Homo sapiens: one gene and its partner. The protein of the gene in region 1 purifies or fractionates together with the protein of each later gene. This does not show direct contact. Each region holds a gene or a part of one and is shown on either strand. Other genes may lie near its edges. The genes, in order: LSM11 and TAF5L.

Region 1 (3,827 bases):
AACACTTGAGGCCAGGAGTTCAAGACCAGCCTGGCCAACGTGGTGAAACCCTGTCTCTACTAAAAATACAAAAATTAGTTGGGCATGGCAGCATCTGCCTCTAGTTCCAGCTGTTCAGGAGGATGAGGCACGAGAATCGCTTGAACCCTGTAAGTGGAAGCTGCAGTGAGCCGAGATCATAGGGACATCATAGAGACCTCTACAGAGGTGATACGAGGTCTCAAAAAAAAGTAATAATAAAAGTATAGGAGGCTGTTGCAATACTGGGAATACTAAAGAAGAAAAAAAGCATAGGAGGAAAGGTTTTTCGTCATCATTAAGCCTAAGCCATCACTGATACCAACAAAGAACTCACACACAAGCTGTACTTGCAAGTGGAATGCAATTGCTTTTCCTCCTTTTTAATATTGACATGCCTATAGAGATGGTAAGACAAGACTAAAGAGCATTATCCTCTTTTCCACATAATTCTAGTGTCTATATTTCTCCTTAGTATCGCAGCACCATACCTAGCCCACGGTGGTTCTGGTTTATAATTGTGCTTCAAGCAAGCTTTTTCTAGGTATATCTGTCACTGTGAAATGAACTGGTGTGTTCAAGCTCACGTCTTGACATTATAAAGCTGTAAGAAAAAGTGTTATCATTACTTTGTTTTAGCTACAGGTGTGTTGGTGTGCAGCCTGTGCCGGTGTGAACAAGTGTGTGTGGTCAATCCAAAATGCATATGACATGCAGGGTTTGGCTCCTAGACCATTGTCTAGGTGAATGGCTTGTCTCCAGTTCCAAATTCAGTTTTCCTGCAGGGAGCCTACACAGTCCTTTTACTCGCACACATCCTGCTGAGAAGGATTTCAAAACAAACCTGATTTATTGGGCCTCTGACGTGATACCATGATTGAAAATTTGTTTGAGTCCTGTTGTTGTAGTTTACTTTGATTGCTGAAATAATTTCCCACAATATGGTGTCTTGATGTTTTCATTTTAATAAAGTGATATTCTTTGGATAACTTTGACTTCACTTCCTGCAAATAAAGAGCAAGAAAATAGGCAAAATCAAGAACATCTGAGCCCTGTGTACAGCAGTAAAATGAACTCTCAAATTTGAACAGCATCTCTGTTACACAGAGGTTGCCAAAAGGGCATGAGTATGACTTACATAAAACCGAGAACAGCGGTACTTAGGCTTCAGAAAAGGCCAAGCTTAAAATTCAGCCTTGTCACTTTTCTCAGCTCATTGCAGCTGTTTCCAGTCAGCTGTCTCCAGTGCAACTAAGGAATAGTCTCAGATGATTTCTGCACCACACTGCTGTGTGTGTGTGTGTGTGTGTGTGTGTGTGTGTGTTTAGGCCAGTTTGACATAGCATCACAATAGGGAAGACACTGATGTGCCTTTGCCGGGTCACTGATTCAAACATTGTACTTTCAATCTGTCATGGCACCCTTCTATAGAATGGCAACTAAAACTATTTTCAGAGAAAAGAGAAAATATTTTTCCATTGCAGACTCATAAGGTGACTGTTACAGTTTGTGGTTTCATTTCTCTGGGCCCTTAATAGGTTATGGAATCTGGGGAGCTGCCTTTGCCCTAATGAGCTAATAACTTTGTATATTTGGAGATATATATGTAGATACAGTTTTGTCCTTAAATCTTTGAATAGGTAGTTGTGGAGGCTAAAGCAACTCCATCTTGAATGCCAGTCCACCATGTTGACTTCTGATTAAACCCAGTTCTGGGAAGGCCTCTAAGATTTCCAATTTATCTGTTGTTTCTTGTGTAAGAGCATGTACTTACTGTAATTCCTGTCCTTACATGAGAACAACCTTGACGTTATCTTACTTCAATTGTCCTACACATCCCTTCTGAATCACCCTTTCCCTGTAGCATATAAGCCCTGCATCTGGGGGTCATGGCACGGGGATCCACCATCTTGTTTTGCCGCCACCTGAGACGCAGACGTGGCTTCTGTTCCTACATTCCTATTAAATATTTCTTTCTAAGGAAAACAAGAGTTACTGTAAGAGGCAAGTTTTAGGTCTTTAAAGAAGGGCATGATTGAGAACAGTTATTTTAAAATCAGGCTGTGATGGTATAATTTACATGTAGCAGGAGAAGGAAGAGTGGAGCTGAAAATGACCTGGATCTGGAAGGATGTGGCAATAGAGAAGGGGATTGGAAGAGTAACTTTCTCCAAAGATAAGGCATATGCTTTTTTGTCATATTTGGTCATAGAAACCTGACTCATATCCATTTGGAGCTTGCCACAGAGACGGCTGGAAAGAGAATGTGCACTCTGATTCAGAATGGGGAGCTCATTTTTGCCTTGGCGGTTTGCTCTGATAGGTGGTGCTAGTGTCGTACTTTTGATCACACAAGGATACAAGGAGAGCAATGCTTCCTGGAATTACACCTTATTAAATCTTTGGAAGAAAAAAATTAAAGGTACACGTTTGAGAAAGACCAATTGAAAGACCTGAATTTGCCATCTATTTAATTAGAGTAAGAGACTGTTGCTAAGATACCTGCTTGCCCTTTCTATTTTTGGAGGTGTGGGAAAGAAGTAATGTCCCTGTTTTTTTCCAAGTTAGAAAAAAATAGTCTTTCCACTCTTTGTATAAACATACATCATAGGGCAGGGGGCAGTATATATGTATGTGTAGGAAAAGAAATAATGCAAGCATGTGATCAGTTTCTAAGAAATTGAGTTATTGGGACTTAGTCCTGAAATAAATCTACAAGTTAACTATCTTAACCTCATTTTATGAATGAGGAAATTTGGAACTTAAAGAAAAAGTTATTCATCAGGTTCACACAACTAGTTATAATGACCTGAAAATTGTTTACAATGCTTGAATGCTTGATTTAATATGGCCTATAACACATATACACGCGCGCGCACGCGCGCACACACACACACACACACCCACACACCCATACACACCCTTAGCTAGCAAATGTACAAAGGACTTTAAAATACTGCTAGAAGAGAGGTAAATGATGATGGTCAGACCAGAATTCTCATGGTCTTTTCCAAAGTCACTGCTTCGTGTCGCTTCCAACTCCGAGTTATTCTCACACCGTTAATCTGACATAAACTCCTGCTAGTCTGCTAAGTCATTTTCTTCTAAGAATCTTTTATTAATTTATCACAGCCATCATTTATAAGCCAATCCATGACAGAGGGATAAGGTGGCTTCAGGAGGAACCAATTTAGTTATCCAAACTGAAGTGCAGGACTGTTGTTCTCCTTTATGTCACTAGAAACAAAGCAGGAGAGATTTTTCATTTGTCTACTGTCAATGCCAAATACTCTATATATCCAGACTTCTAAGACCTGACCAAAAATAAACTTTCTACAGAATTTTGCGTTGCAAACTTGGGAAAGAGTGAGACTGTGTACGCACGAGAAAGAGAGAGAGATTGGGGGTGCGTAGTGCGTGCCTGTAGTCCCAGCTACTCAGTGGGTTGAGCTAGGGGGATCGCTTGAGCCAGGGAGGTCAAGGCTGGAGTGAGCTGTGATTGTGCCACTGCACTCCAGCCTGGGTGACAGTGAGACCCTGTCTCAGGAAAAAAGAATGTGTACGGCTTTCTTTTGGGAGGTTTTATATACCATAGCCAGCATATTGTGAGAGCTGAGTTAACATGAAATAATAAAAATAAAATTCATCTTTCCTCCCACGCTCTGAGAATCCTTCATAATAAAAGCTGAAATTTATAGTCTCAATATTCTTCCTATGAGTCATTATCCTGCTCTCTTCACATGATGCTTATTAGTAGTGTCATAGGAGCCAGATACTCAGCCAGGTGCCTTTTACACTGTCAGGGCTTG
Region 2 (3,827 bases), on another chromosome or scaffold:
CCACAAGAGAGGCTTGCAGTGGGAGGGACCAAGAGAGTTTCAAGTAGGAGGTGAGTTCAGCAGCATCACATCCAGCTGAGAGATCGTGAAGGGTGGTGCTGGAAAGTGACTGGTTAGATCAAAAAGTTAAGGAATCCCAAGTCTCAGTAGCCCACTGAGGTCAGAAGCAGGGTCAGCTGGCTGGGTGAGGAGACTGGTGAAGGTTTAGAATAGCGTAGGTGGAAGGCTGTAGGGTAAGTAGTTGATGAAACAAGACTTCTGGAACATCATGGAGGTCCCAGCTGATGTTGGAGAAAATCTACTTCTCATGACATCTGTTTGCTGGATTTCGTGATTTCCACCTACTTTCTACCACTGCTGCCATCCCCACCAAAACGCCACATTCTTCACTGCGTCCTGAGCCCAGCTACGGCCTTATCCATGTGCCATTTTATTTCTTAGGACACCATGGGAAAAAACACAGCTTCTAGTTCAAGTGTATTTATGTCAGTCTGAGCAAAGATTGAATATGAAAGGCTATCATAATTTTTAAATTATATGAGGTATGACTGAAACTGAAAGTAGTATGGCTCATTTATTTTTCAGTTGTGATTTATATTTTCACAAAGCTTATTGAATACACTTTATCATGATGATTAATGCAAAGCTAGGGCTTTAGGTCCTACTTAGACTGATCTTTTGATGTTACAACCATTTAGTTGCTGTGAGTGAAGAGAACTAATAACTTGAGTTACCTAGTAGACACTTTACAAAAAAATGCAAAAAAATAATTTTTTTCTTCTGTTATAAACATAAATTTGCCATTGGAAAAAAGATACAATTACTCAAAAGCCAACAGTCAGAAGTCTCAGTTGAAGAGCTGATTTGAGGATTGTGTAGTGAGTTTGCCTGAATTTATCTTGAACTCACCCCTACTCAAAACTGCCACCTTATTGGGGCAGGGGGAGGGATGGGGGAGCCAGGTAGTACTCTTTTGGCATTTCGTGGAACTGTGTAGTACTTTAACCTGTGATATGGTGGATGAGGGTGCCTCCCAGCCCTCCTCTACCGACCGTGTACATTAGAGCCTAACGGGGGTGGGGGTGGAGGGATAGGATGCAGCGTGTAACCACTGAAGGGATTGACCAGACTAGAGTTCCACACTGACAGCATCTTAAGAGGATGCCTGGGTTCCATGTATCTCCACCTCCCCATGTTTCTGTAGTTGAATGTTAAGTGTGGCTGTGGTTTTCCCTGCAGAGTTGTTACATTGAAATGATCATGTGGGATTTTATATAGCAACTTGGTTGAAGTATCTGGCAACTGTTGATACATGAGAATAGATATACATTGTGTCAAAATCCTCCAGAAATTTTTGATTTCCAGAAATACCAATCTGGCAACTGTTGATACATGAGAATAGATATACATTGTGTCAAAATCCTCCAGAAATTTTTGATTTCCAGAAATATCAATAATGTGATATGAAGAGCAGAGTATTTGACATCTGTTTTTACCTCTGAAAGTTAAGTATTTTATATAAATTGAAAATGATGAGAAATTCTGAAATGTTAACAAAGAGTATAATTATATTTAAATCCAATTTCAGTTTGAAAGATTTTATAATTATAGGAAAAGCTAGGCAGGTAACGAAACTGCACTGTTCGTCTCATGTATGAGTCTCTCCAGAGACTTAGGTCTAGTTTAAGGAGAGTTTTTTTTCTTCACTTGTCCCTTTTTGGATATTAGTACTCTGGAAATCAGTCTGGGTGGAGGGGACCGATTTATCTCAGGTTCATTAATTATCCATGTCACTTGAAATATATGTACATTGGAATAAAACCCAGCTGAGTTGATTGGGTCGTGTCTCTAGTATTTGAGTTTAGCGTGGTTATGCAAGAGAGTCATTGCCAGAATTCCTGCCCTTAAGATCCATGGCCATACAGTTGATTCACCACCCACCCTCAGGGAAGCGCCCTTATCATAAATGGTAGTTTGGACTCAGAGAAATTGCTATTTGGGGCAGCTAATTTAAGCATATTTGTTAGAATCAGTATTACAGACTAGTTTCTAGCAATCTTAAATATGGTCAGTGTTGACTATCATTCATTCTTACTCCGTTCTGTTTACTCTTTCCTAACTTCACATCTTTTCCCTTCCTCCTCAGACACATAGGTATATTGTCGCACCTTGAGGACACTGTGTCATTGCAGAGCCTGTTCTCCAGATCAGTCATTCACATGTCTTTCACATGCAGAGTTTTTTCCTGTCAGAGGTGATCTAAGAGATCGAGGCCCATCTGCCTGGAATGCTCACGGATGTGCATCAATATTTGCATGCATTCCCAAGTCAGCAAAAGATCGGCAGTGTGGAAGCCGGAAAGATTTCAGTCTCAGCTAGAGTAGGGAATTGGGCTGCTTTGGGAAAGCCCGCAGAGTAGGAGATCTTGAAGTTAGATGAAAAGCAGCTGTAGCAAGTGATAGGAAGAGGCACTGGTTGGATTGACTCGTCTTGACTTTGGGCCACACGGGAAAGGACAGTACTGTCACAGCCTCCGTGTGCATTTAACTTTTTTACTCTAAATATAACACAACCAGAATCTGCAGGGCTGAAATTATTTATATACATATCCACACACTCATGGGATTCTTATGTATAGCCAGGTTGGAGGATCACTGATAGAGCAGTGCTGATCAGTGGCCACAGAGAATGGGAGCAGGGACCCCACTCTCAGAGTATCAGAATCCCTGTATTAGCAATTTAAAAAAACAGCTTAATTAAAAAGTAACCTAAGTCATCAATACAGTGAGAGAATAATACACCATACCCAAGCAAGGTAAATTTCATAGTGAGAAGAGAGTTCAGTATTTGGAAATTTATTATTGTGTTTCATTATGTCACTGATTCACAACCATAGTGTTCCTTCTTTTTAACAATCACACACCTAGTACCCCTTCTTTGTAACAAATATTTTGAACTCTTTGGCAACCTAGAAATAAAATGCACAGATAATGTAATCTTTCTGGGCATATAGTTTAATATATATATAATGTCCTAACATTTTATATTTACATGTATATATACTTGTGAGTATGTCTCTAGCCTTCACAGTTTGCTCTGTTGTATGACTTGTAGGGAATTGAAAAGTAGGTCTTCAGAGTATATTTTTAAAGGGCTCCCACAAATCAGTTTAGAAGGAAATAATTACTTGCAAATGGTATTGGGACAGTGTGTTAGCTACAGTCACTGGGCAAAACATTTGTTTGGTTATTCACCACACATACACTAAAAGAAACTGCAGATGGACGAAAATTAGATACAAATAATTTTTTTATGTTTAAAGAAAAATAAGACCAGGCATGGTAGCTCATGCCTGTAATCCCAACAATTTGGGAGACTAAGGAAGGAGAATTGCTTAAGCCCAGGAGTTTGAGACCACCCTGGACAACATAGCAAAACCCCTTCTCTACTAAAAAAAAAAATATAAATAAATAAATAGACTTCCGGAAAAGGTGGAATTTTACATCTTAAAAAAGAATGGAAGAGCAGGCACGGTGGTTCGCACCTGTAATCCCAGCACTTTGAGAGGCCAAGGCAGGCAAGTCACTTGAGGTCAGGAGTTCGAGACCAGCCTGGCCAACATGGTGAAACCCCATCTCTACTAAAAATTTAATAATTAGCCAAGTGTGGTAGCGTGGGCCTGTAATCCCAGCTACTCGGGAGTCTAAGGCAGGGAATCACTTGAACCCAGGAGGTGGAGGCTGCAGTGAGCTGAGATCATGCCATTGCACTCCAGTCTGGGTGACAGAGCAAGACACTGTCTCAAAAAAAATAAAACAAAATGAAAG

What was found.
Region 2: the proteins of LSM11 (region 1) and TAF5L fractionate together in Homo sapiens (co-fractionation; one large-scale study listed by BioGRID). This does not show direct contact.

The regions. Positions count from the first base shown.
Region 1 is NC_000005.10:157,746,687-157,750,513, forward strand, and holds part of LSM11 (U7 snRNA-associated Sm-like protein LSm11), read left to right. Parts: intron 1-3,827. UniProt on the Homo sapiens protein: Component of the U7 snRNP complex that is involved in the histone 3'-end pre-mRNA processing. Increases U7 snRNA levels but not histone 3'-end pre-mRNA processing activity, when overexpressed. Required for cell cycle progression from G1 to S phases.
Region 2 is NC_000001.11:229,616,009-229,619,835, reverse strand, and holds part of TAF5L (TAF5-like RNA polymerase II p300/CBP-associated factor-associated factor 65 kDa subunit 5L), read left to right. Parts: intron 1-3,827. UniProt on the Homo sapiens protein: Functions as a component of the PCAF complex. The PCAF complex is capable of efficiently acetylating histones in a nucleosomal context. The PCAF complex could be considered as the human version of the yeast SAGA complex.